2 separate regions of the Homo sapiens genome follow, and region 1 is linked to region 2. The links come from fine-mapping of genetic effects on gene expression. A gene starts in region 2. The other region holds a variant in brackets. All regions are shown on one strand. Distances are between the middles of the regions.

Region 1 (16,302 bases), 47 kb before region 2:
TCCCCACTACCCTTCCTAACCTCTGGTACCCACCATTCTACTCTCTATCTCCCTGAGTTCCATTGTTTTAATTTTTAGCTCCCCCAGATTAGTGAGAACATGCAAAATTTGTCTTTCTGTCCGTGGCTTCTTTTACTTAACATGATGCCTCCAGTTCCATCCATGTTGTTGCAAATGACAGGATTTCATTCCTTTTTATAGCTGCATAATATTCCACTGTGTATATGCACCACATTTTCTTTTCCATTCATCTGTTGATGGACACTCAGTTTGATTCCAAATCTTGGTGGTTGTGAACCGTGCTGCAGTGAACATGGGAATGGTGGTATCTCTTTGATACACTGATTTCCTTTTTTGGGGGTAAATACCCAGCAGTGGGATTGCTGGATCATATGGTAGTTCTATTTTTAGTTTTTCGAGGAATTTCCATACTGTTCTCCATAGTGACTGTACTAATTTACATTCCTACCAACAGTGTACGAGAGTTCTTTTTCTCTACATTCTTGCCATCGTTTGTTATTGCCTGTCTTTTTTGAGACAGAGTCTCCCTCTGTTGTCCAGGCCAGAGTGCAGTGGCATGCTCTCAGCTCACTGCAACCTCCACTTCCCTGGTTCAAGCAGTTCTCTTATCTCAGCCTCCTGAGTAGCTGGAACTGCAGGCACCCACCACCATGCCTGGCTAATTTTTGTATTTTTAGTAGAGACAGGGTTTCACCATATTGGTCAGGCTGGTCTCGAACTCCTGACCTCAGATGATCCACCTGCCTTGACCTCCCAAAGTTCTGGGATTACAGGCGTGAGCCACTGCGCCCAGCCGTCTGTATTTTTTTTTAGAGACAAAGTCTTGCTTTATTGCCTGGGCTTGTCTTGAATTCCTGGGCTCTGGGATTATAGGCATGAGCCACTGTGCCTGGCCATTTTCTTATGAAAATTTTTCTTTCTCTTTTTCTTTTCTTTTTTTTTTTTTTGAGACAGGGTCTTGCTCTGTCGCCCAGGCTGGAGTGCAGTGGCTCAGTCTCGGCTCATTGCAACCTCCACTTCCTGGGCTTAAGCCATCCTTCTACCCCAGCCTCCCAAGTAGCTGGGACTACAGGCACGTGCCACCATGCCTGGCTAATTTTTGTATTTTTTTTTTTGGTAGAGATAAGGTTTCACCATGTTGCCCTGGCTGGTCTCGAACTCTTGAGCTCAACAGTCCTCCCGCCTTGGCCTCCCAAAGTGCTGAGATTATAGGTGTGAGCTACTGTGCCTGGCCTAAACATTTTTAATGTTTTTTATTTCCCAGTGAAGTTATTAATTTATCTGGAATAATTTTTTGTGTAGTGTGTGAGTTTGGGATCTGACTGAACTTTTTTACCCTATGGATAACCACTTGGACCAGGACATTTATTGAATAATCTCTTTCTTTTTTCAGTAATGAGTAATATTACTTGTCATCTGTCACATTTTCTCATTCATGGGTGGGCCTGGGTCTGGCTCTCAGTAGTAGGTTTTGTTTTTGTTGTTTTTTAAATTATTTTGTTTTATCTTATTTTATTTTATTTTTTTGAGACAGAGTCTCGCTCTGTTGCCCAGGCTGGAGTGCAGTGGCGTGATCTTGGCTCACTGCAACTTCCATCTCCCAGGTTCAAGCAATTCTTGTGCCTCAGCCTCCCGAGTAACAGGGACTACAGGCATGTGCCACCATGCCCAGCTAATTTTTTTTTTTATTTTATTTTTAGTAGAGATGGGGTTTCGCCATGTTGCCCAGGCAGGCCTCGAACTCCTGAGCTCAAGCAATCCACCCGCCTCAGCCTCCCAAAGGGCTAGGATTACAGGCATGAGCCACTGCGCCTGGCCACCAGCTAATTTTTGTATTTTTAGTAGAGACAGGGTTTCATCATGTTGGCCAGGACAGTCTCAAACTCCTGGCCTCAAGTGATCCTCCCACCTCGGCTTTCCAAAGTGCTGGGATTACAGGCAGGAGCCACTGCCCCCACCTGTTATTTTTTAACTGTCCTTGCTTGGTAAAGTAAAACTCTAGGAATGATAAATTGGTCCTGTATTAGTGTGTTCTTGCACTGCTATAAAGAAATAACTGAAGGCCGGGTGGGATGGCTCATGCCTGTAATCCCAGCACTTTGGGAGGCTAAGGTGGGTGGATCACCTGAGGTCATGAGTTCAAGACCAGCCTGACCAATATGGTGAAACCCTGTCTTTACTAAACATACAAAACTTAGCCAGGTGTGGTGGCATATGCCTGTAGTCCCAGCTACTCAGAAGGCTGAGACAGGAAAATTGCTTGAACCCAGGAGGTGAAGGTTGCAGTAAGCCAAGATCGTGCCACTGCCCTCCAGCCTGGGCAACAGAGCAAGACTCTGTCTCAAAAACAAACAAAAAGGCCAGGCACAGTGGCTCACGCCTGTAATCCCAGCGCTTTGGAAGGCTGAGGCAGGCGGATCACGAGGTCAGGAGTTCGACACCAGTCTAGCCAATATGGTGAAACCCCGTCTCTACTCAAAATACAAAAATTAGCCAGGCGTGGTGGCGCACACCTGTAGTCCCAGCTACTCAGGAGGCTGGGGCAGGAGAATCTCTTGAACCTGGGAGGTGGAGGTTGCGGTGAGCCGAGATCATGCTACTGCACTCTGGCCTGGGTGACAGAGCGAGACTGTCTCAAAAAAAAAAAACAAAAAAACTGAGACTATAATTTATAAAGAAAAGAAGTTGAATTGGCTCACAGTTCTGCAGGCTGTACAGCAAGAATAGTGGCTTCTGCTTCTGTGGAGGCCTCAGGAAACTTACAATCATGGCAGAGGGTGAAGGGGAAGCAGGCACGTCTTACATGGCTGGAGCAGGAGAAAGGTGGGGGAAGGTGCCGTCCACTTTTAAACAACCAGATTTTGTGAGAACTCAATCACGAGAACCACACTAAGAGGATGGTGCTAAACCGCTCATAAGAAATCACCCCCATGATCCAGTCACCTCCGACCCGGCCCCACCTCCAACATTGAGGATTACAGTTCGACATGAGATTTGGGTGGGAACACAGATCCAAACCATATCAGTCTCTCCTCAAATAATTTTTTTTTTTGGTAATTGTATTGCTCTGTGAAATCAAAAAAATCTGGGAATCATTGTTCTAACACCAATCCCAGAGATCTGCTAATTCCTGAGTTGCCCTGAACCCTTAAAGATGATGCCATTTCCACTCTGAGAACCCAGGCATTTGCCATTGATTTCCTGAAGGCAAAGACCTGAAGGGGGAACATCAGTCAAGAGAGTCCTTGCTACCTTCTGCCACAGCTGTCATTCTTGACCCCAAGAGCAATGATTGGAAAGTAAATGCCCTACTTCAGTCTTGTCCTTGACACTGATGGATAATTTTGGAATATCTGGCGTTGTGTGAATATCTTCAGGCAACTGATAGTAATGTAGTCTTACTAACTGCCACAGGGTACAGCTAATGTTCCCGAATGAATAAAGCAGTGAAAGAGAGCAGTCGATGAGCTTTTAGACCCAATTCTTTTGATGGGTTCACCATATTTCTTCCTACTCCAGTAAGGTTGCTCATGTTTGTGATGCAGGTTACGTCGCTGGATTTGTAGACTTGGAGGTGAGCAACAGACCAGACCTCTATGATGTGTTTGTGAATCTGGCAGAGAGTGAGATTACCATTGCTCCCCTTGCAAAAGGTTTGTTCTCTGTTCTGTTCTTGATACAAGATATAAGCCAAACAGTTGTACATTTTTAGGCTGATTCTCTAAAACCAGTATGTGAGGGCTGGCTTACCAACTCTGCTGAAGATGGATATTTCCGTGTCTAGAACACAACATTTATTCCTATAAACATAGACATATTAGCAGAACATCCCGGGTGCTTATGCAGCAGAGTGTATATTAAGAAGTTAAATAGTCTGTTCATCTTGTTTCACTACTTTTGTGTTTAAACAAGGTGTATTATCTACTGCCACATAACAAATCACTTCAGAACTTAGCGGTTTATTTTCTTAATTTTGAAATGTTTCTGAGTCATACAGAACTCAGTGGTTTAAAACAACACATATTCCTTTTTCTTTTCTTCTTCTTTTTTTTTTTGGCAGAGTCTTGCTCTATTTCCCAGGCTGGAGTGCAGTGGCCTGATTTTGGCTCACTGCAGCCTATGCCTCCCGGGTTCAGGTGATTGTCATGTCTCAGCCTCCCGAGTAGTTGGGTTTACAGGCATGCACCACCATGCTCAGCTAATTTTTTTTTTTTTGAGATGGAGTCTTATGCCCAGGCTGGAGTGCAATGGCACGATCTTGGCTCACTGCAACCTCCGCCTCCCAGGTTCAAGTGATTCTCCTGCCTCAGCTTCCCGAGTAGCTGGGATTACAGGCACCCGCCACCGCACCCAGCTAATTTTGTATTTTTAGTTAGTGATGGGGTTTCACCATGTTGGTCAGCTGGTCTTGAACTCCTGACTTCATGATCTGCCTGTCTTGGCCTCTCAAAGTGCTGGGATTACTTACATATGTGAGCCACTGCGCCTGGCCTAATTTTTGTATTTTTACTTGAGACAGGGTTTCACCATGTCGGCCAGGCTGGTCTCGAATTCCTAGCCTCAAGTGATCCACTGGCCTCAGCCTCTCAAAGTGCTGGGGTTACAGGCGTGAGCCATCATGTTCTAAAACAACACATATTTATCTCACAGTTTTGGCGGATCAGGAATGACTTATGTAGAGGTAGTTTGGCTCAGGAAGTTTCAGTCACGATATCCCAGAGCCACAGTCATCTGAAGGCTCCACTGGGGCTGGAACATCCGCTTTCAATGTGCATGGCTGTTGGCAGGAGGCCTCAGTTCCTTCTGCCATGGGCCTCTCCATAGGGTTGCTTGAGTGTTCTTACAATATGACAGCTGGCTCCCCAGGAGTGAGTGACCCGAGAGAGAAAAGGAAGTCACAGTGCGTTTTATAATCTTGCCTTGATAGTCACCATTACTTCCTCCATATGCTATTTGTTAGAAGCAAATCACTAAGTTTAGTCAACACTTGAGAGAGGAATGTCTCCACCTCTTGAAGAAAGGAGTATCAAAAAATATGTAGGCGTTTATCACTACACAGGGTTAAATGTGACTCCAGTATGGAAAATCTTTTTGAAGCATGTCTTAGTAAGCATAAGGGAATGAAGCTGTTCTTAGAGCTAATGATCAGGAAAGGGTGTACTAGTGTTAGAGTGGCATTCTTAGACATTCTAAATTGTTCCAAATTAGGCCGGCCATGGTGGCTCACGCCTGTAATCCCAGCACTTTGGGAGGCCAAGGCGGGTGGATCACGAGGTCAGGAGATCGGGACCAGCCTGGCTAACACGGTGAAACCCCGTCTCTACCAAAAATACAAAAAATTAGCCGGGCGTGGTGGCAGGCGCCTCTAGTCCCAGCTACTCGGGAGGCTGAGGCAGGAGAATCAGTTGAACCCGGGAGGCAGAGCTTGCAGTGAGCCGAGATCGCGCCACTGCACTCCAGCCTGGGTGACAAAGCAAGACTCTGTCTCAAATAAATAAATAAATAAATAAATTGTCCCAAATTACAGCTACATAAAGTAGAAAAGATTGGCTTAAATGCGTGTTGAGCACTACTCAGGTAGTGGTTTTAGATGGGATTACTGATTAACAGCTTTGTTTTGTCACTTATCTTTCTCCTAAAAGTGGGGGCAGCTGAATGCTGACTCATTGGGAATTGTTAGATTCGATTATGTGAGGTTTTATTGAAAAATTCAAATTAATAGAACCATAACTGGCTTTCCTTTAATTCGTTTTAAAATTGCAAACATAATGCATGCTCATGATGAAAAATTCAAACTATGGGGTCAGATCTTTACGAAATAACTGCCTTTTGCAAAGCGAAAGTGAAAGAAAACTGGCTGTGGCTAGGGCCACTTAAGCAGCTGAAGCATTAGGACCAGAAAGGGTGGCCATCTTCCTGCTGCCCTGTGTTGCTCTGTGTCTATAAAAATGGGCTCATCCTAATCCGCACCAGTTGAATGGAGTCTGTCTCTTGAAGTGACAAACAAGTTTCTGTTAACCTCCTCAGTGCAGACAGTAGCAATGTATGTAACCAGGCTAACTTAGGTGGTTTCCTTTGCTCATTTCTAAGAATCTAAACGAATTGAGCGCCCAGCTGGCTTCTGCAGAACTGACAGGAAGCTCCTCTTTCACAATATTCCCGCCAAAAAGATACATTTCTTAACTGTAAAGAGCTGGACTAGAACGTCAGACTCTTGGCTTATAGTCATGACTTAGTTGTAGTCAGAATTGTTCATTATGCTTTGTCTGGGAAGAAAAATAAAAATTTTGGTCAGGTGGGTGTGAAGGGGAAATCTGGTTTGGTGTGATGTGTTTTTATGTTTGCCCAGAAGTATAAATCACGATTATATTATGCCTTTCCTCCCAGCATGTTGTCATATTTGTGTCTAGTGATAAAATGGACATGTGGGAGGTTATCAGCTGCTTTTTGAAAATTCCCTCAGTGTGGTCTTCCAAGTTTTCAGATAGATGGCATGATTATTTTTTATGTCGATTTCTAAATATTCACCTTCTTGATCTCACCAGAGGCCATGGCAATGGGCAAACTGCACAAAGAAATGGGTCAGCTAATTGTTCAGTCTGCAGAAGATCCAGAGAAATCAGAGAGCCACGTTATACAGGTAACTCCCTCACCTTCTGACTTACTGAAAGTCCTGACCCGGTGTCGCTGGGTGGTGTGCGGCAGAGCTGTGCACATAAGCAGAGTGGGGGGCTGTGGTAGAGGCCAGCGGGCAGGTGCTTAGAGAGGGTTTACAGACGGCCACAGTGATGATGGACAAGCAGGTGCAGGCTGGCCTGATCTAGTTAGTTACTGGGCTCGAGGGCAGGTATACACAGGGGCTGGTGCTGACACCGACCGCTGGCAATGAGAAATGTAACTACCAAGTGGTCTGGAAGGCTTTTCTGGGCCAGCCAGTGCATTCTTTCTTCCTAGGAGAATTTCCCTGGAGGAACAAATTATAAAGGGGAGGTTGTTGCTGAGCATGGGGAACTAGATTGTCAAAATTTTGCTTTGCTTGTCTCCAGGACAACAGAAATCATGCAGTCAGACTCCTGTCCCACTTAGTGACTGTTGCCACATGCCGCAGAGCCAGCTCCTTGCTGGTGTCTACCTGGCATGCTGACCAGCGTCCATGTGGCCCAGTGGGCACCTGCTCTGCCCTTGCCAAACTGGGATGGCAAATGGGTTTTATTTCTTGTGCTTTCCACGTGGTGGCCTGCAGCCCGCCCAGCTCCTTGCATTTGGCCTGTTCCCAGCTCCTTGCTCCTCTCCTGAAGGATACACTTCCAGCGTTGCCTTATCTAGATGCCTGACTCATAACCTGGGGCTGGAGGGCCCAGAAGGACTGTCTCCCATCTGCACCTGTCCTACCTGGGGGTACGGGGGCACCTCTGATATGCAGGCTTTACTCATTCGGCCCAACCTGATGCCTTCTTCATTTATCCATTCATTTACTCAGTGTTTCTTGAGCTCTGTTTGTTAGGCATTGCACTGGCAGTGGGGATGCAGTGGTGAGCAAATCCCTGCCCTCATGGAGTCTGTAATTTAGTGGAGTAGATGCACAGAAAATAATAAATGACAAGATAATTACAGCCCATGTTAGGTGCTGTGACAGAAGGGGTTGAGGTGGAGAATATTGGGGGATGGGTAGGCCAGATCTCTAAGGAGGTGACATGTCAGCGGAAAGATGAGAGGGGCCATTTCTCTGCAGTGCTGGTGGCCTGGCCAGCTGTGAGCAGGAAGAGTGGGCTGATCTTGCCCTGAGGACCTGAACACTGGAGACTCTGGGGCCGCTTCTTTCCTACCATGGGAATCCTCACTGCCCACCTACCCCCAACATTAGAGTAAAGACATATTCTTACAATATCAGCAACATATGTGAATCTGAGTTTTGCATTACTGTGTTGTTCACAGACTAAAAGTGCTACCTAGATGACTTAGTATGACGTATGAGACCTTGGGGAGGGCAAGTGAAAGTGCTGGGAATGCTGTAAGGGTTCAAAAATACATGAATGAATTAATGATGTCAGCAAACAAGGAAGAAGACGTGACTTTTTTTTCCCTTTTTTGAGTTTCACTGTCGCCCAGGGTGGAGTGCAGTGGTGCAATCTTGGCTCACTGCAACCTCCACCACGTGGGTTCAAACGATTCTCCTGCCTCAGCCTCCCACGTAGCAGGCACTGGGATTACAGGGGCCTGCCACCACACCTGACTAATCTTGCATTTTTAGTAGAGATGGGGTTTCACCACGCTGACCAGGCTGATCTTGAACTCCTGACCTCAAGTGCTCCGCCTACCTCAGCCTCCCAGAGTGCTGGGGATTACAGGCATGAGCCACCACGCCTGGCCAGAAGACATGATTTTTTTTTTTTTTTTTGGAGACAGAGTCTCGCTCTGTTGCCTAGG[C/T]GGGAGTGCAGTGGCGTGATCTTGGCTCACTGCAACCTCTGCCTCCCAGGTTCAAGCGATTCTCCTGCCTCAGCCTCCCGAGTAGCTGGGACCATAGGCATGCACCACCATGCCTGGCTAATTTTTTTGTATTTTTAGTAGAGGCAGGGTTTCACCATGTTGGTCAGGCTGGTCTTGAACTTCTGACCTCAAATGATCCACCTGCCTCGGCCTCCCAAAGTGCTGAGATTACAGGCGTGAGCCACCATGCCTGGCCAGAAGACATGATTTTAATGAGTGCTTTAGTGAGTCCTCAGCCACCCAAAAGGAATAAAGCCTGCGTGGCAGGTGCCGGGTTACTTATCCCAGGCAGAAGAGGACTTTTGGGAAGAGATTCCTTCAAAAAAACAATAGCAGCATTTCTCAAAAAGTTAAACATCAAGTTACCATATGATTTAGCAATGCTGTTTCTGGGTATATACCCAAAATAATTGAAAGCAGGGACTCGGCCAGGCCCGGTGGCTCATGCATGTAATCCCAGCACTTTGGGAGGCCGAGGCGGGCGGATCACCTGAGGTCAGGAGTTCAAGACCAGCCTGGCCAACATGGTGAAACCCATCTCTACTAAAAATACAAAAATTAGCCGGGTGTGGTGGTGGGCGCCTGTTAATCCCAGCGACTTGGGAAGCCGAGGCAGGAGAATCGCTTCAACCCGGGAGGCGGGGGTTGCAGCGAGCCGAGATTGTGCCATTGCACTCCAGCCTGGGCAACAAGAGCAAAACTGTCTCAAAAAAAAAAAAAAAAAAAAAAAAGAAAAAGAAAAGAAACGATACTGTAAAAATATAGCATTATCATCTTATGGGACTACCATTGTAAATGTGGTCCCTGGTTGACCAAAACGTCATTATGTGGTGCATGACTGTACTCGTATGGAAATATCCATAGCAGTGTTACTCACAGTAGCCAAAACGTGGCAGAAGCAACCCAGTGTCCTTCAGCAGATGAATGGGCAAGCAAAATGTAGTCTTTATATACAGTAGAATATTACTCAGCTTAAAAAGGAATGGAATGTTTTGAATGTGGCTTTTGTTGGGGGGGAGAAAAGGAATAGAATTCTGATACATGCTATAGCATGGATGAACCTTGAAACCATGCTAATGAAATAAGCCAGACACTAAAGGGTAAATGTTGTATGATTCCACTTATATGAGCTATCTAGAGCAGACAAATTCACAGAGTTAGACGGCAGAATAGAGGTTCCCAGGGGCTAAGCGAGGGGAAATGGGGTTATTGTGTAATGGGTAGAGTTTCTGTTTGTGATGGTGAAACGTGCTGGAAATAGTGGTGATGGTTGTGCAACGCTGCAAATGTACTTAATGCCACTGAATTATACACTCAGAAAATGACTAAAATTGTAAAAAAAAAAAAAAAAAAAAAAAAACCAAAACCACACACTATGATTTTTCTAAGTTAATTTTGTTTCATTTTTCCTAATTTTTTCTTTAAAAAGAATTATCAGGCCAGATGCAGTGGCTCAGATCTATAATCCCAGCAGTTTGGGAAGCCAAGGTGGGCAGATTGCTTGAGCCCAGGAGTTTGAGACCAGCCTGGGCAACATGGTGAAACCCCATCTCTACAAAAAGTATTTAAAAATTAGCTGGGTGTGGTGGCGCATGCCTGTAGTCCCAGCTACTCAGGAGGCTGAGGTGGGTAGATCACTTGAGCCTGGGAGGTCGAGGCTGCAGTGAGCCATGATTGAACCACTGCACTGCAACCTGGGTAACAGAGCGAGACCCTGTCTCGAAAACAACAACAAAAAAAGGAGTTATCTTTTTTGTTGTTCGTTTTTGAGACAGGGTTGCCCAGGCTGGAGTGCAGTGGTGCAATCATGGCTCACTGCATTCTCTAACTCCTGACTCAAGACATTCTCCTGCCACGGTCTCCCAAAGTGCTGGGATTACAGGCATGAGCCACCACGCCAAGCTCATTTTTCATAGTTTATAAACAGTCTGGAAAAAATAGGAAGAATTCTAGAGACTAAATATTCAAATTTCGGATACTAACATGTTGCATATATTTTCCTGTTCTATTAAAGGATATTGCTCTAAAAACAAGAGAAATCTTTACCAACCTAGCACCGTTTTCAGAAGTTTCGGCTGATGGAGAAAAGAGAGTCCTTAATTTGGAGGCGCTAAAGCAAAAACGATTTCCACCAGCAACAGAAAACTTCCTTTATCATCTAGCAGCAGCCGAACAAATGCTGAAAATCTGACTGTGTGACAGAACGTATCACTGATGACTGATAGAAAGCCCTCTTTCACTCTGATTACCCACTCACTACATGAAGTCCTGAAAATAACAGAGAAACTGTTATATCTTTTTAATGATTTATTTGCAAGTATTGAGATTTGACCTGAAAAACAATGAAACACATGAACACACTTCCGATTTTCTCCTCGCTGATTAGCTTCCTGCCTGCTGTCAGTGCTGGACGAAGTGCTATAACTACTTTATGTAACATTACAGAACAGCTAGAGGTCCTGGGGTAAGAGAAAAAAAGCACATCACAACAAATGTGAAAGCCTTCATTATTACACGTTCCAGTTTGTCTCGCTGTGTAGGCATAAGCTAATGGTTTATTTTCAGAAAGCTGCCTGAAACGTTGCTTTGTATTCTTCTAGGAAGAACTTTAATTCCTCCTGAGGAACTCTACTTTCTGAGCCAAACTGCTAATTTTCTGCGGAACTGTCTAGAAGATCATTCAAGAGACCCTGCAGTTGCACTTTCTCGTAAAAGTTAAAAAAAAAAAAAAAAAAAAAAGGTTTTTCCCGGCCTTTGAACATTTTGCCTATGAGAGTTTTGCATATATTTTATACTTGAGTAGACAACTTTAATAATCCATATTTATACTATCGCAGAAGTAAGCATTTGGCAAACGTTCAGCCATTAGCACTCATTTAACCCTGTTAGCAATATTCTTTTGAAAAAAGTGCCAGTCCTTATGTGATAAACTAAGAAGCCCATTGAATATAAAAGTGTGTAGGACTGAAACAGTGACCTTATATTATTGCTAAGGGAATATGAGATTAACTTCCTACAGGGGCCAAAACCAGAGAAAGGCTTCCAGCAACTTCGATGAAAGTAGTTTGGCCACATGTCAAGCCAATTGTTTGTACTATTTATGTACCTTTTTCATAACTGGAATTGCCAAATAAGCATGGAGATCTAAATGATGTACTTGTTAGTGTATTCATTCATATTGACTGTAAAGGATTATTTTTCACTCAGTACTGATGTCCTTGGAAATCTTACCTGGAAACATGTTTGCAAAAAACATTATTGGGTCTTTCATCTTTTTCTTGGTATTACATATTTGTTCAATAAAAATTAAACACCCTCCCTTTTTTTTGAGTGAGGGCAGGGAGTACCTGAAATAAGACAATGTTTACTAAGGCAAATAATTGAAAATTAAATCTGCACTTTATGGAAATGAGGAATATTAACATCTTTTTTCTCATTTTTTTGTATTACTATATTAGCTAATGATCAAAGTTGTTAAAATTATAAATTTATGATGCAGAAATAAAATTGATATATTTTGATATTCAACTACTTTTAGGTGGGTGACGAATTGTCCCCTCTTTCTCTAATACTGCTCATTCCAAAGAAAATGGGGAAAAAATACCTTTTTTCAACTGTGAGGGCGCTAGGGAATTATTAAAAGACCTGTCTGAAAGTTCAAGACGGCCAAGGGCGCGGTGGCTCATGCCTGTAATGCCAGCACTTTGGGAGGCCGAGGTGGGCGGATCACCTGAGATCAGGAGTTTGAGACTAGCCTGGCCAACGTGGTAAAACCCCATCTCTACTAAAAGTACAAAAATTAGCTGGGTGTGGTGGCACATGCCCGTAATCCCAGCTACTTGCTATTTGGGAGGCTGAGGCAGGAGAATTGCTCGAACCAGGGAGGCGGAGGTTGCAGTGAGCCGAGACTGCACCATTGCACTCCAGCCTGGACAAAAGAGCGAGACTTGGTTTCAAAAAAAAAAAAAAAAAAAAGTTCAAGCCGTCCCCCACACACCCTTTCCTCCCGCCCTAGCCCTCCTCCACTCGCCTTCCTGGAGCTGCCTCTGTAACTTCAGTCTCCTGTCCTTGGAAGATGCCTTCACATTTCTGTCATCTGTTAGCGGTTAAACCTCCACCTGCAGCTGTTGCCCATCTTGTTCTCTAACTTTAATTTTGGTTAGTGTCAGCCTATGGTCAAACTGAGCCATTTACTGATTTTGTCCTTTTAGGCTGTTATGAAACTTTCCTCACCAAATTTGGAAATGAACCATCATACTGGCCTTGGGGAAACAAAACCACAGATAAATTCTTTGGTAATGTGGGGTAGGGTGTGTTGGAAGCATTAGTCCAGTACTCAAATGTTGAGGTACCTACTCTGTGCCATGCCTGTGTTGTATTTTGAACTACCCTGATGGGCAGCAGCTCCCGCTCTCGCGGTGCTGCGCACAGTCCGCTTGGGGAATAGGGTCAGCAAACAGGCTGCTGTAGTGTGGCTAGTGCTAGGCGTGATGTGTGAAACAGAGTGGTATTGGAGCACATAGATGGGGACCCAGTTCAGTGCTGTCAATCCTGGAAGGCCTCCCAGAGGGAGTGATCAATGTCAAAGTCAGGCCTGAAGCATTAAGTAGACATCTACTCAGACCAGAGGAAACAGCTGTGTGAAGGCCCTGAGAAGAGACCACAGCCCATGTGAGGACCTGGAGGGTCTACAGGGAGGGGAGGGAGTGGCAGGATACGAGTATGGGAAAGGCTTGCTGTGGTGAGGAAGGTGGGCTTGATCTTGACGCACTGGGAAGCCATTTAAGGCTTTTCAGGCCCGGTGCGGTGCTCAGGCCTGTAATCCCAGCACTTAAAGAGGCCAAGGTGGGTGGATCGCGGGGACAGGAGATGACAGCCTGGCCAACATGGTGAAACCCCATCTCTACTTAAAAAAAGCAAAACAAAAATTAGCTGGACGTGGTGGCTGGTACATGCCTGTAGTCCCAGCTACTCAGGAGGCTGAGGCACAAGAATCACTTGAACCCAGGAGGTGGAGGTTGCAGTGAGCCAAGATCGCGCCACTGCACTCTACACTCCAGCCTGGGTGACAGAGTGAGACTCCGTCTCAAAAGAAAAAAAAACAGTTGTTCAGCAGGTGTGGTTTAGAAGAGCAGGCTGGAACGTGGACCGGAGGGAGTAGGCAGGAGATGGGCCAGGCAGTGCCAGCAGGGGATGCTGTTGGACTGCGCTGGGTGGTAGCAGTGGGCATATGTGGGTTCCAGACTCCATGTACTGGGCCCTGTCTACTGCATAGGCTGGTAAGGTGGGGAGAGGGCGCCTCCAGTGATCCTGTCTGGTGCACCTGGGGAGGTGGTGGTGTCAATTCCTGAGACTGGGAGGGAGAGCTGATCTCAGGTTCGGATGGGTTGAGTTTGAGGTGTCTGGGACATCCAAATGGCAAAGTACAGCCAAGTAAGCAGCTCAGTGACCAGCCTGAGTGCCCAGCAGTGTGGCAGTGCCACATTCAGGTGGGTCACGGATGAGAGAAATCTTAGCAGAACGGGAGGTGGGGTGGAGACAGTGAGGGCGGACAACTCTTTTAAAGTGTCTGGCTACAGCCAGGCGTGGTGACAGGCGCCTGTAGTCCCAGCCACTCAGGAGGCTGAGGCAGGTGGGTCCTCATTGAGCCCAGGAGTTCAAGGCTGCAGTGAGCTGATTGTGCCAGTGCACTCCAACCTGGGTGACAGCAAGATCCTGTCTCTAATGAGGCAGGTGACAAGCAGTTTATTTCTTTTTGAGACACAGTCGTTCTATTGCCTAGGCTGGAGTGCAATGGCATGACGTCAGCTCACTGCAACCTCCGCCACCAGGGTTCAAGTGATTCTCCTGCCTCAGCCTCCTGAGTGGCTTGGACTACAGGTGCGCAACACCACGCCTGGCTGATTTTTATATTTTTAGTAGACACGGGGTTTTACCATGTTGGCCAGGCTGGTCTCGAACTCCTGACCTCAGGTGATCCACTGACCTCAGGCGATCCACTGACCTCAGGCGATCCACTGGCCTCAGCCTCCCAAAGTGCTGGGATTACAGGCGTGAGCCACCGCGCCTGGCCGACAAGTAGTTTACATACTTCTGGGAAGGACCTGGCAGACAGAGGCTACAGAGCACAGCCCTGAGGAAGCAGAGAGAGGCCCAGAGCCTGGAGGACGCTGGCATTACACGGAGGAAGGATGGGTGTGGGTGCGGGTGTGGGGGGCTCCACTGCTGACCTGTTTCCTGGCGGAGGAGGCAGGGTCCTTTGCCAGAGAGGAGAAAGGAGGCACTGGGCGGAGGGCGGCAAAGGTTTTAAGTAGCTGTCTAGAATGGAGGACACTGAGTAAGGAAACAAGATTGCTTTTGGGGTTGGAGGGCGTAAACAGCGCCCCAGGGGTACGTGTTCCGCTTGAGACGGCCTATCCATTTAACACCTGTGTCCTGGGCACGGTGGACTCTGTGTTCTTTCTTCAAATCCTCAACTTGAGACAGGTTTATTAGTTAATTAGTGATTTCACAGTATCCTTTCGCAGGCCGATCCCCACTCCAACCGTTCCCTCAGCAACCCCAGGGGTGTCAGACGGGGCACCCTCCCACTGTCTTCTCCAGCCAGCCTTAAAAACCCCAGAGACGCCAGCCTGGGAACGATCTCAGTATGGAATCTGAAGTCGCCTTGTCAGCACAGACACCTCTGGGGTCCCCAGAAGACCTGTGGCAAAGTTCTCTAAACCGAACCTGGAGAGGGGAAGGTTTTCAAGCAGGAACCACATAAATTCACCTAAAACTCACGCCTACACCCCTCTGTGATAAAAGATTTCTGTTTCTTCTGTTGGAGACTGAATTTTCTCTTCAAGACTACAGTACTGTATCTGAAAAATAGTTAAATTCATAATGTTTCTATTAATAGTTTTTCTTGCCTTAGAAGCCAAGTTAAAAAAATCATTTTCTGAAAGCAACCATTTCACAGTCCATCTTTTTCAATAATGTCTAATCTATAGCAGAAAATGTAACCTATTTTTTTTTTTAATCACCCAAGCAGTAAAGAAACTTCTTAAACTTTTTTTTTTTTTTTTTTTTTGAGACAGAGTCTTGCTCTGTTGCGCAGGCTGGAGTGCAGTGGCACCATCTCAGGTCACTGCAACCTCCACCCTCCAAGTTCAAGTCATTCTCATGCCTCAGCCACCCGAGTAGCTGGGATTGGGATTACAGGCGCGCACCACCATCCTTGGCCCATTATTGTTATTTACTTATCTCTACATTTGTTTATAATTGAAAGTTTCCATTAAAAAGTTTTAAGATGGCTGGGCACAATGGCTCATGCCTGTAATCCCAACACTTAGGGAGGCTGAGGCAGGTAGATCACTTGAGGCCAGGAGTTCAAGACTAGCCCGGCTAACATGGTACAAAAAATACAAAAATTAGCTGGGTGTGGTGGCACACACCTGTAATCCCAGCTACTCCAGTGGCTGAGGCACGAGAATCACTTGAACCTGGGAGGTGGAGGTTACAGTGAGCCGAGATCAGGAGGATTGCTTGAGGTGGGGAGTTTGCAATCAGCCTGGGCAATATAGTGGGACCCTATCTCTACAAAAAATAAAAAATTAGCCAGGTGTGGTAGTACGTTCCTGTAGTCCCAGCTACTTGGGGGGCTGAGGTCAGAGGATCACTTGAGCCTGGGAGTCAAGGCTGCAGTAAGCCATGATCATACCACTGCCCTCCAGCCTGGGCAACAGAGTGAGAAACCCTGTCTCAAACACACAAACAAACAAAAAACAAATGTAGAAGGAATGTAATGAACTC
Region 2 (13,295 bases):
TTTTATTTAAACTTCTCATAATTAATTAGTAGTATAAAGTGCTTAGTATAAATCAAAACATTCGGTTCAACTGTACATCTTAGGCACAGTCATCCTTTGCCACCTGTGGGGGGATTGGTTCTAGGATATCGAAATCTACAGATGCTCAAGTCTCTTACATAAAGTGGTGATTTGCATATAATCCACACACACCCTCCAGTATACTTAAATCATCTCTAGATTACTCATAATACCTAATACGACGTAAATGCTACGTAAATAGTCGTTAAGCTGTATTGTTTAGGGAATGACAAGAAAAAAAGACTTTGTGTTCAGTATAGACACAACCATCCATTTTTCCCTCCCAATATTTTCGATTCAACCAACCACAGATGCAGAATCCAGATACAGAGGGCCAACTGTAATTTCTCCTTCTATAGTTTTAGATTGTGCACAAATTCAATTCCAACTGCTACAGAAACTAAAAAGAGGAAGACAAAGTAGGGATAGAATTAAGGAAGACATGAGACTAGAGATGGATTTTAAATATGGTTCAGATTTTGTCAAGTCTAGATGGGATGGGGCAGATGGCATGTAGGAAACAGCAGGAAGGAAGACAGGACATGTGTGTGGAGCAGCGTGTGGCAGTCTAATGAGAACAGAGAGTGTCTAAGGGTACGGAGTGAAGAGCAGGCAGCAGGCAGGAATGGTTGAAGGCCATGTTGCAACAGTCCTTAAATACTAGGCTGCTGGGTCTTCTTAGCAGGAAAGATAACAGAGTCAAGGGCGGAGTCTCGCTCTGTTCGCCCAGGCTGGAGTGCAGTGGCACAATCTCAGCTCACTGCAAGCTCTGCCTCCTGGGTTCACGCCATTCTCCGGCCTCAGCCTCCCGAGTAGCTGGGACCACAGGCGCCCGCCACCCCGCCCGGCTAATTTTTTGTATTTTTAGTAGAGATGGGGTTTCACCGTGTTAGCCAGGATGGTCTCCATCTCCTGACCTCGTGATCTGCCAGCCTCGGCCTCCCAAAGTGCTGGGATTACAGGCGTGAGCCACAGTGCCTGGCTGAGATGGGGGTTTTTAGGAAGATTAGTCCGGCAGGAGGGAAAGAGGAGCAGGAGGAAGGGGGAGACATGTTAGGAGGTGGTTTCAGTGATTTTTTTTTTTTTGAGACAGAGTTTCGCTCTGTCACCTAGGCTGGAGTGTAGTGGCATGGTCTCGGCTCACTGCAACCTCCGCCTCCCAGGTTCAAGCAATTCTCCTGCCTCAGCCTCCCAAGTAGCTGGGATTCCAGTAGCACACCACCACACCCGGCTTATTTTTTTTAAGTATTTTTAGTAGAGACGGGATTTCACCAGGTTGGCCAGGATGGTCTTGAACTCCTGACCTCAAGTAATTCGCCTGCCTTGGCCTCTCAAAGTGCTGGGATTACAGGTGTGAGCCACTGTGCCCAGCCTCGATTTCAGTGATCTTAGACGTATTGAGGGGAGGTATGGGGCAGAAAGAACAGAAAGGAATGGATGCAAGAGATGTGTCAAAACTGAAAAGGACTTGCTTCTACCCAGGAATGAGCGACAGAGTAGTTCCAATGTCAAAATGCCTGACACCGCCATGAACAGAAACAGGAGGCGCTGCTGGGGATGAGGATTCGAAACCAGTGGAGTAAAGTTTTAAGCCTGTGGTATCACATCACTACTAGAAATATTTTGAAGCTCCAGGGTAGTAAAATTGCGAAAGCTCTTAGAACATTTTGCCCACAAACAAAGGCTTTACTAAAGTATATCCCCACAAACCATTACATATTAAATACGGGCTTTTTCAAAGGCTAGTCAAATCTAGACAAGGTATTTTCAAATACCACTCATTATCTGAGGCTGATCTTAGCAAAGCCCATATCCTAGAGAAGGGAGTGTAAATCTCAAGAAACAGCTAAATTTCGCTCAGATTACAGATACCATTAGACAGGTCTGGTTCCTAAGTGGCCAGCTGGGGCCATTACACAGGTTTGAATCTTAGAGCAGCTGCCCTCTCAGGTCCCCCACAGGCTGCCCACCACTCACAGCTCTTCAGACACACTAGACTCAGAAGGCATCTGAGCTCCCAGTAACACCCTCCTCAACACAGTGGATTAGAAACTCTGACAACCAACATGGAAATGTGACAAGGGCAGTTTGCCTCAGTGATTCTCAACCCTGGCTGCACGTTAGAATCACCCGGCACATCCTGGTCTCACCCCACAGACTAACTTGTCTGGGGTGGGACGGGGGCAGTGCTGTGTTCCTGAAAGCTCCCAGGTGACTCTAACGTTTGGCCAGGGTTCAGAGCCCCTGTCCAGAGACGATGGTTCATTTTTCCTTTACCTGGCTCCAGCCAAGACATGACATAACACTTACTGGTGCTGAATAATTTTGCTTGACTGGAACCAGAACACAATAAATTTGTCAAGCTCGTTCTTCCACATGCAGCAGGCCTGAGGGCTGCAGTGGCAGAAATGCCCCAAGGAATGGCACTCACATGTCGGGCAACCTGGAAAGAGAAACTTTTTATTAGAAAGTTTTCCTGGACTGGTGACTGAAGGCTGAAAGGGCATCGTGCCAACGGTGGTTTCAGCTGTCCCTGTTCCTGTGAACCAAATAGCAAACCCCAAACTCTAAGAGCATGGATTGGATCTGCATGTTCTTAACACTCCCTTCTGCTTCCTTCTCCTAGGAGACTGGAAGGTGGAGAGGAACTATAAGAACACAAAGACCGGCTGGGCGCGGTTGCTCACACCTGTAATCCCAGCACTTTGGGAGGCCAAGACGGGTTGATCACCAGGTCAGGAGTTCGAGACCAGCCTGGCCAAGATGGTGAAACTCCATCTCTACTAAAAACACAAAACTTAGCCAGGCGGCGGTGGCGGGCACCTGTAATTCCAGCTGCTTGGGAGGCTGAGGCAGGAGAATTGCTTGAACCCGGGAGGCAGAGGTTGCAGAGCCGAGATCGCGCCATTGCACTCTAACCTGGGCGACAACTCCGTCTCAAAAAAAAAAAAAAAAAAAATCAGAAACTCCATGCGCTTAAAGCAACACAGGGTTCAGAAGCCAGGGGACTTGTGCAGGCTTTTCCCAGCACTATCTGCTGAGTATGTTCTACCATTTCAAGGTTTTCCTTAGAAAAACAAGGCCCCTCCAGCACCAGCGACAAGTAAACAAGAAGAGCCAAATTCAGCCTCTGGGAGTCTGTTAAAGGCTCAAGGGACATGTTTACTCAACTTTTTTTTTTTTTTTTTGAAACAGAGTCTCGCTCTTTTACCCAGGCTAGAGTGCAGTGGCGCGATCTCGGCTCGCTGCAGTCTCGACCTCCTGGGCTCAAGTGATCCTCCCACCTTAGCCTCCCCAGGAGCACTGACCACCATGCCCGGCTATTTTTTTTTTTAGAGACAAGGTCTCACTATTATTGTCCAGGCTGGTCTCAAACTCCTGGGCTCAAGTGATCTGCCCGCCTCGGCCTCCCAAAGTGCTAGGATTACAGGCGTGAGCCACCGCACTCTGCCGGTTTGCTCAACTTTAATGTTCAAAATGACTCAGGAGAACGAAAGGGGCTGTGTTGAACCCCACCAGAGAAAGCCGTGTACCAAAAGAGCACGACGCATTGCCCACAGTTAAGCAGGAAACAGCAGCAGAAACACGCGGGAGTGGGATTGGGAGGGAAAGCCTTTGTGAGTTTTTTAGCACTTTGCGCGTTTTTATCCAGTATTTAAGGGGCTGTTCACAGCAACGCCTTGATGTAGGCATCATTCTTTCCATCTTAAGTACACAGTCTGAGAAAGGCGAAGGCGCTTGCCCAAGATCACAGGGTCGGTGGCAGAATCAGGGCCAGGACCTTAAGTGGAGATGGGCCTGGGGACCGGGGACGCCGAAAGAGGAGGGACTCGGGGAAGAGACCGCGAGGATGGAGTGGGGAAGGGCGGTTCTGCGCAGGCGCATGGAACCTTCCCGGAGGGAGGCCTCTGGGTCCGTTACCCGCGGAAACCCTCCAAGAAGGGCGAATGGCCCTCATGCCCAGAAGCGCGGGGTCCTGTCTGAGAAGCACGTTCCCGGAGCCACCAGTGTCTCCACGCCTGTCCCCAGCCGACAGCCACTCACCGACGCTCGGAGCAACCGTCCTACAGCAGCCGCCATCTTCAGTGCACTCGGGCGCCACGGGGCGGGCAGAGACGCAGGGGCGGGGCCTACGGGGTGGTGAGCGGGCCCTCTGCTGGTGGGGGGGCGGGGCCGGAGGAGCCACCGCCTCCCCGCCTCCTGGAGACCCTGAGGGAGAAATTCCCTTTAAGGCTGAATGCTTGGGCAAGTGACACGTGGTTTTCCTACTGTCGCCCCAACCTTAAAAGAACGAATCCAGGCGGGGCATTAGGTATTTGTTTCCATATTTCCCACTGTTTTGTTAACCTTGTGTGGATTACTGTGTCTAGTATTTCTGTGACAGGATCCCTTTCTTATTTCAGCCTCAGGTAGAGACTTCCGGCTTCTGTATGAAATGGAATTAATTACAAATGCAGTTTTAGTCCGTTAATAAGCTAAGTGGGCTAGACACATCAAGGCTTTGTTGGCCTGAAATCCGCTGGAATTGTGTGTGGTCTAACATTTGGCCTCTCTTCCCAAAATTGGGAAAACTGGGACAAATTTAAAATTTGGTTTTTGTCTATTAATGAAGCCAAGTGTTCAGTGGTGAGCATAGTACTTGAAGCAACCACATCAAACATAGATAAAAATCACACCGTGGCCTTACAGTAAGTGTGACAAATTGCAGTCTTGGAGCTGGTATTTTCTTTTCTCTTTTCTTTTCTTTTCTTTTTTTTTTTTTTTGAGACTGGGTCTTGCTCTGTCGCCCAGGCTGGAGTGCAGTGGCATGATCTTGGCTCACTGCAACCTCTGCCTCCCGGGTTCAAGCGATTCTCCTGCCTGAGCTTCATGAGTAATTGGGATTCCTGAGCAGCTGGGATTACAGCCGCCTGCCACCATGCCCAGTTAAGTTTTTGTATTTTAAGTAGAGATGGGGTTTCACCATGTTGGCCAGGCTGGTCTCAAACTCCTGACCTCAAGTGATCCGCCCACCTCGGCCTCCCAAAGTGCTGGGATGATAGGCATGAGCCACTGCACCCGGTCTGAGTTGGTATTTTCCAATCACTAGTCATTCAATTAGCAACTTCGTTTCTCAAGTCTTCTTATCACCAAATATCACTTACTATTTTCTTTAAATTGGCTTTCTTTTTTTTTTTTCCTTTTCTTTTTTGAGACAGAGTCTCACTCTGTCGTCCAGGCTAGAGTGCAGTGGCACAATCTCGGCTCACTGCAACCTCTACCTCCTTGGTTCGAGCGATTCTTCTGGCTCAGCCTCTCGAGTAGCTGGGATTACAGGCGTGCACCACTAAACCCGGCTAATTTTTTTAGTATTTTTAGTAGAGATGGGGTTTCACCATATTGGCTAGGCTGGTCTTGAACTCCTGACATCAGGTGATCCTCCCACCTTGGCCTCCCAAAGTGCTGGGATTACAGGCGTGAGCCACCACACCCAGCCCAGTATATTTTCTAAAATCATCTCAGGTACCACTAGGCGCCACCCTGGGTACCAGTCCCCAGATGTGGAAAGGACTGCCTTGGATGTGTGGGGACACACGTTTCGACTATTTCACCTCACACCTTCCTTGTGTTTGTTTAATTGGTTTTAATTATGTCTGTGTTTAGCAGATGATTGAAAAGGAGACAATCATTTTGGAGCTCAAAATCGTACTGTAGGCCGGGCGCAGTGGCTCACATCTGTAATCCCAGCACTTTGGGAAGCTGAGGTGAGTGGATCACCTGAGGTAAGGAGTTCAAGACCAGCCTGACCAACATGGTGAAACCCTTTCTCTACTAAAAATTGCAAAATTAGCTGGGCATGGTGGTGCATACCTGTAATCTCAGCCACTTGGGAGGCTGAGGCAGGAGAATCACTTTAACCTGGGAGGCAGAGGTTGCAGTGAGCCGAAATTGAACCAGTGCACTCCAGCCTCAGCAACAAGATTGAAACTCCGTCTCAAAAAAAAAAAAAAAAATACTGTAGTTCACAATGGAATATTATTTATCCATAAAAGGAATGAAATACTGATATATGCTACAACACAGATGAACTTTGAAAACACTAGCTAAGTGAAAGAAGCCAGACACAAAAGAACAAATAGTGTGTGTTTCCTTTTATATGAAACATCTAAAATAGGTAATTCCAAAGGGACAGAAAGCAAATCAGCAATTGTTAGGGACTGGGAGAAGCTGGCATGGGGACTGACTATTTATTTTTTATTTTATTTATTTATTTTTGAGACAGAGTCTCCCTCTGTTGCCCAGGATGGAGTACAGTGATGCAATCTCAGCTCACTGCAACCTCAGCTCACTGCAACCTCTGCCTCCCAGATTCAAGCAATCCTCCTGCCTCAGTCTCCCGAGTAGCTGGGACTACAGGTGTGACCACCATGCCCAGCTAATTTTTTTTTGTATTTTTTAGTAGAGACGGAGTTTCGCCATGTTGGCCAGGCTGATCTCGAACTCTTGACCTCAAGTGATCTGCCTGCCTTGGCCTCCCACAGCGCTGGGATTACAGGTGTGAGCCAGTGCGCCCAGCCGGAACTATTTAGTAGGTACAGGATTTTCTTTTTTTTTTTTTTTTAATTTTATTTTTATTGATCATTCTTGGGTGTTTCTCACAGAGAGGGATTTGGCAGGGTCATAGGACAATAGTGGAGGGAAGGTCAGCAGATAAACAAGTAAACAAAGGTCTCTGGTTTTCCTAGGCAGAGGACCCTGAGGCCTTCTGCAGTGTTTGTGTCCCTGGGTACTTGAGATTAGGGAGTGGTGATGACTCTTAACGAGCATGCTGCCTTCAAGCATCTGTTTAACAAAGCACATCTTGCACCGCCCTTAATCCATTTAACCCTGAGTGGACACAGCACATGTTTCAGAGAGCACAGGGTTGGGGGGTAAGGTCACAGATCAACAGGATCCCAAGGCAGAAGAATCTTTCTTAGTACAGAACAAAATGAAAATTCTCCCATGTGTACTTCTTTCCACACAGACACGGCAACCATCCGATTTCTCAATCTTTTCCCCACCTTTCCCCGCTTTCTATTCCACAAAACCACCATTGTCATCGTGGCCCGTTCTCAATGAGCTGTTGGGCACACCTCCCAGACGGGGTGGTGGCCGGGCAGAGGGGCTCCTCACTTCCCAGTAGGGGCAGCCGGGCAGAGGCGCCCCTCACCTCCCGGACGAGGCGGCTGGCTGGGCGGGGGGCTGACCCCCCCCACCTCCCTCCCGGACGGGGCGGCTGGCCGGGCGGGGGGCTGACCCCCCCCCACCTCCCTCCCGGACTGGGCGACTGGCCAGGTGGGGGGCTGACCCTCCCACCTCCCTCCCGGAAGGGGCGGCTGGCCGGGCAGAGGGGCTCCTCACTTCCCAGTAGGGGCGGCCGGGCAGAGGCGCCCCTCACCTCCCAGATGGGGCGGCTGGCCGGGCGGGGGGCTGACCCCCCACCTCCCTCCCGGACGGGGCAGCTGGCCGGGCGGGGGGGCTGAACCCCCCACCTCCCTCCCGGACGGAGCGGCTGGCCGGGCAGAGGGGCTCCTCACTTCCCAGTAGGGGCAGCTGGGCAGAGGCGCCCCTCACCTCCCGGACGGGGCGGCTGGCCGGGTGGGGGGCTGACCCCCCACCTCCCTCCCGGACAGGGCGGCTGCCGGGCGGAGACGCTCCTCACTTCTCAGACGGGGCGGCTGCCGGGCAGAGGGTCTCCTCACTTCTCAGACGGGGCGGTTGCCAGGCGGAGGGTCTCCTCCCTTCTCAGATGGGGTGGCTGGGCAGAGACGCTCCTCACCTCCCAGACGGGGTCGCGACCGGGCAGAGGCACTCCTCACATCCCAGACGGGGCGGTGGGGCAAAGGCACTCCCCACATCTCAGACGATGGGCGGCCGGGCAGAGACGCTCCTCACTTCCTAGATGGGATGGCGGCCGGGAAGAGGCGCTCCTCACTTCCTAGATGGGATGGCGGCCGGGCAGAGACGCTCCTCACTTTCCAGACTGGGCAGCCAGGCAGAGGGGCTCCTCACATCCCAGATGATGGGCGGCCAGGCAGAGACGCTCCTCACTTCCTAGACGGGGTGGCGGCCGGGCAGAGGCTGCACTCTGGGCACTTTGGGAGGCCAAGGCAGGCGGCTGGGAGGTGGAGGTTGTAGCGAGCCGAGATCACGCCACTGCACTCCAGCCTGGGCACCATTGAGCACTGAGTGAACCAGACACCGTCTGCAATCCCGGCACCTCCGGAGGCCGAGGCTGGCGGATCACTCGCGGTTAGGAGCTGGAGGCCAGCCCAGCCAACACAGCGAAACCCCATCTCCACCAAAAAAATACGAAAACCAGTCAGGCGTGGCGGCGCGCCTGCAATCGCAGGCACTCGGCAGGCTGAGGCAGGAGAATCAGGCAGGGAGGTTGCAGTGAGCCGAGATGGCAGCAGTACCGTCCAGCTTCGGCTCGGCATCAGAGGGAGACCGTGGGGAGAGGGAGAGTAGGGAGAGGGAGAGGGAGAGGGAAGTCCAGGATTTTCTTTTGTGGTGATGAAAATGTTTTGGAACTAGATAGAGGTGGGTATAACATTATGAATTAACTAAATACCCCGAATTGTAAACTTTAAAATAATTAATTTTATATTTGGTGAATTTCACCTCAATTAAAAAAAAAATTAGAAAAAGGCCAGGCATGGTGGCTCATGCCTGTAATTGCAGCGCTTTGGAAAGCCAAGGTAGGAGGATCACTTTGTGCCCAGGGGTTTGAGACCAGCCTGGGCAACATAGCAAAACCCTGTCTCAAAAAAAAAAAAAAAAAAAAAGAAAGAAAAAGAAAAAGGAAAAGAAAAAAAAAAGAGAGAGAGAAAATGTAGAAGAAATAGGGACTAAAAACATTATATACTGTAGTCTACTCCAGTGATTTAATAGATCTAAAAGGCTCAGAAAACTGAGCCTTTTGGAGATGGAGAGACCTTCCCAAAATCACATCACTGGCTAGAAGCAGAGAGGTAGGGCAAGAACCCAGAAATTCCATACCACTGACCACCCAGCGTGTGTGTCTGATGGAGTTCAGCCTCAGCACCTTTTCCCCAGCCAACTCGTGAGATTACGTCATCCACACCCTCATCGTCTCCTCTTCTCCCTCATACTACAGGGTTGTTTTTTTGGTAGAAACAAGGTCTCGCTATCTTGCCCAGGCTGGCCTTGAACTCCTGACCTCAAGTGATCCTCCAGCTCCCAAAGTGCTGGGATTACAGGTATGAGCCACTGTCACAACAGCCTGCAGTTTTAAAGTACTTAAGCTTCAGTAGCTCAAGTCAACAAAAGGGGAGGGGGGAGGGGGGCAAAGCCAAGCCAAGGGGTCGCCTTCTCTTCTCCTTATGCCCACAGCCCTTTGCCGCCCACCTCTCCCTTCCCCATGCTGGAGGGCCTCTTGCTCTCCTATTGTAGGCGTGTGTTTTTTAGTTCCTGCACACAGGCAGTTTGGCTCATAACTAAACTTCACTATAAAAATGTAAAGCATGGTGCAAGTCAAAGCGACAGAGCAGAGTGGAGTTCCCTTAGAATTTCACCTCACTCATCCTGGTTTCAGTTTTAAAGCTCAGATGCATTAGTTAGTGCCAGCTCATAGGCAGGGTTAGGCTTCAAGGTAACATTACTTGAGGGCCTCATAATTGGCTCTGAAAGCAATTCTTTTTTTTTTTTTTTTTTGAGACGGAGTTTTGCTCTTGTTGCCCAGGCTAAAGTGCAATGGTGCGATCTCGGCTCACTGCAACCTCTGCCTCCCAGGTTCAAGTGATTCTCCTACCTCAGCCTCCTGAGTAGCTGGGATTACAGGCATGCACCACCACGCCCAGCTAATTTTGTGTTTTTAGCGGAGATGGGGTTTTGCCATGTTGGTCAGGCTGGTCTCGAACTCCTGACCTCAGGTGATTGGCCCGCAGGTGATCGGCCCGCTTCGGCCTCCCAAAGTGCTGGGATTACAGGTGTGAGCCACCGTGCCTGGCTGCTTCAAGGTAACATTACTTTCCGTCTTCCATGTAGCCCCATTCACCTGCGGCTGCCTTCAGTTAGATTTCCTGCATGATTCCTGCCCATTTTAGCCTCTGAAGTAATCTGTTTCCTGTCCTATTAGGTACCAAATAGAGAGCCCTCTGGTATTGGATCAATTAACAATGTGATTTTTTTTTTTTAGAATCTTGCTGTGTTGCCCAGGCTGGAGTGCAGTGGTGCAATCTCGGCTCACTGCAACCTCTGCCTCCTGGGTTCAAGAGATTCTTCTGCCTCAGCCTCCTGAGTAGCTGGGATTACAGGTGCCCACAACCACAACTAGCTAATTTTTGTATTTTTAGTAGAGACCAGGTTTTGCCATGTTGGCCAGGCTGGTCTTGGACTCCGGACCTCAAGTGATCCTCTCGCCTCGGCCTCCCAAAGTGCTGGGATTACAGGCATGAGCCACCGTCCCTAGCCAACAATGTGATTTTAATCATTAATAAACATGTACTGGAGAGGATCACTTAGACCCTGCTGCCGAGGAACTGTGTGTGTATCCAAGGAATACTGATAAAATCATTAAAAAAAAAACCCAGTCCAAGATTCAGCATTTTAAGAGGCATGAAAGAGGCATAATGGTTGAGTGTGGACAGCTGAGATTGACACACCAGCTCTGCTAGCTGCAGGCACGTGGCCTTGGGCAAGTTACTTAGCACATTTTCCCATCTGTAAAATTGAAATGATGTTAGTGCTTACCCCAAGGGCTTTTGTGAGGAATAAATGAGTTCATATTTTAAAGGCATTAGCACAGTCAGCAGGCACATAGTGTTCGTTATATTAAATAAAAGAGAGGTGCAAGTGAAGTGCTATCATGGTTTAGAGAAAGGGGCCAAGAAGGGCTTCACAGAGAAATCATCTATCCTGCTGCTTGGGGAAGGTGAAGGGGAAGATGGCAGGTGGAAGTGACTAGTGACCTTTGTCCCTTTGGTTTACTGTTATCTTCAGTGACCACACTATGGGGCTACGCTCTGGGTTGAATGCAGTATCTCTATTCCGTCTGCACAACCCTATGACACAGGTGCTTTTTCGGTTTGTTTTTTGTTTTGTTTTGTTTTGTTTTGTTTTAGAGTCTTGCTCTGTCACTCAGGCTGAAGTGCAATGGCATGATCTCAGCTCACAGCAAACTCCACTCCTGGGTTCAAGTGATTCTCCTGCCTCAGCCTCCCAAGTAGCTGGGATTACAGGTGCACACCACCACACCTGGCTAATTTTTGTATTTTTAGTAGAGATGGGGTTTCATCATGTTGGCCAGGTTGGTCTCGAACTCCTGACCTCAAGTGATCCGCCTGCCTCGGCCTCCCCAGGTGTAGGGATTACAGGTGTGAGCCATCACACCCAGCCACAGGTACTGTTTTTAATTCATCATCCCCATTTCCAAGGTGAGGAGACTGATGCTTGGGAAGGTTTAGTAATTTGTCCAAAGTCCCACAACTGGAAAGGGAAGGAGCCAGGATTTAAACCTTGAAAGCTGACTGCAGAGCCCCCATTCCTTTTCATTTTTATTGTTTTTTGTTTGTTTGTTTGTTTTTGAGACAGGGTCTCTCTCTGTCATCCAGGCTGGAGTGCAATGGCACAACCATGGCTCACTGCAGCCTCAACCTCCTGGGCTCAAACAATCCTCCCACCTCAGCCTCCCAAGGAGCTGGGACCACAAGTGTGTATCACCAAGCCCAGCTAATTTTGTTAGTTTTTGTAGAGAAGGGTCTTCCTATGTTGTCTAGGTTGGTCTCAAACTCCTGGGCTCAAGCAGTCCTCCTGCCTTGGCCTCCCAAAATGTTGGGATTACCGGTGTGAGGCCAGAGCCCCAACTCTTTTTTTTTTTTTTTTTTTGAGATGGAGTCTCGCCCTGTCGCCCAGGCTGGAGTGCGGTGGCGCAATCTCAGCTCACTGCAAGCTCCGCCTCCCGGGTTCACGCCATTCTCCTGCCTCAGCCTCCCGAGTAGCTGGGACTACAGGCGCCCGCCACCACACCTGGCTAATTTTTTTGTATTTTTAGTAGAGATGGGGTTTCACCGTGTTAGCCAGGATGGTCTCCATCTCCTGACCTCGTGATCCACTCACCTTGGACTCCCAAAGTGCTGGTATTACAGGCGTGAGCCACCGTGCCTGGCCAAGTGCCCCAACTCTTAAAGCAATATTGTATGACCTCCTACAGTATTTGTTGGAGCATAATGTGCTTGATGGGACATAATAGGAGATGGTACTATAAATGTGGGCTGTGTGAGGACATGAAGGAGCACTGACCATCTGTCCTTTAGTGAAATATCTCAAGTACTCCACTCCCAGGCACCAGGCCTCACTGTGGATTCTGTCCATTGATGCGGTACGCTGTGCTCTTTTGCCTAAGCATTTCTAATAGGTTCCGCCCCTGCAATTGATGTTCACCACCTTGGGGCCCACTCTACTCTCAGCCTTCTTTTTTTTTTTCTGACGGAGTCTCACTCTGTCACCCAGGCTGGAGTGCAGTGGTACCATCTCGGCTCACTGCAACTTCTGTCTCCCAGGTTCAAGCAATTCTCCTGCTTCAGCCTCCTGCGTAGCTGGGATAACAGTGCCCGCCACCACGCCTGGCAAATTTTTTTGTATTTTTAGTAAAGACAGGGTTTTCAATGTGTTTCAGCACATGGCCAGGCTGGTCTTGAACTCTTGACTTCAAATGATCTGCCCGCCTTGGCCTCCCAAAGTGCTGGGATTACAGGTATGAGCCACTGTGTTCGGGCGACTCTCAGCCTTCCTTTCCTTCTCTGGGGTCTGTCTGTTCCTGTCTTCCTGCCAAGCTTGTGAAAGGAAGGCACCCACTTATTTGTGACAACGAAAAATGTTTCCAGATGTTGCCAAATGTCCCCTGGGGACAAGAGAACCCCCAGAGGAAACCACTGCTCTAATGGTAATGGCACAGGCTGTGGGGCCACCAGGACATGGGATCAAATTCTTGGTCTGTCACTTATGGTCTTGGAGGGCAGGTCATATGTCTCAGGCATCACAGAATCCCTCGTGACTAGACCAGTTAATGTTTCTATACCTCAGTTTCTGCAGGTGTGAAATGAGGGTAATGATGGCATCTACCGCTTCAGCCATGCACAGTGAGATAATGCCTGCAAAAGATGTAGTGGGGTGCTAGATACAGAGAAAGTGGTATAAATAAGTTATTCTTTTCCCCACAAGCAGACATACTACATTTTCAAACAACTGGC

Evidence for each region. PIP is the estimated chance that this variant, and not a neighbour inherited with it, causes the effect. A credible set is the group of variants that fine-mapping cannot tell apart.
Region 1: its variant is the best candidate, but not a certain one, in a credible set for the expression of PRDX3 in whole blood (TOPMed, PIP 0.65).

What each region holds. Positions count from the first base shown.
Region 1 is chr10:119,125,949-119,142,250 of GRCh38, forward strand. DENND10 (DENN domain containing 10) reads left to right here. Exons shown (of 9, transcript NM_207009.4): 7 at 3,567-3,674; 8 at 6,567-6,661; 9 at 10,523-12,036. The coding sequence ends at 10,699. It overlaps SFXN4 (sideroflexin 4), which reads right to left. Exons shown (of 14, transcript NM_213649.2): 14 at 14,819-15,371. The coding sequence ends at 15,294. Among named protein-coding and RNA genes, the nearest start is that of DENND10, 30 kb to the left of the region's middle. The variant C/T (reference allele first, on the strand shown) is at 8,449.
Region 2 is chr10:119,174,651-119,187,945 of GRCh38, forward strand. It overlaps PRDX3 (peroxiredoxin 3), which reads right to left and starts at 4,162. Exons shown (of 7, transcript NM_006793.5): 1 at 4,105-4,162; 2 at 2,371-2,503. The coding sequence starts at 4,140. RefSeq lists enhancers at 3,041-3,685, 3,685-4,164, 8,223-8,968 and a silencer at 4,195-4,304.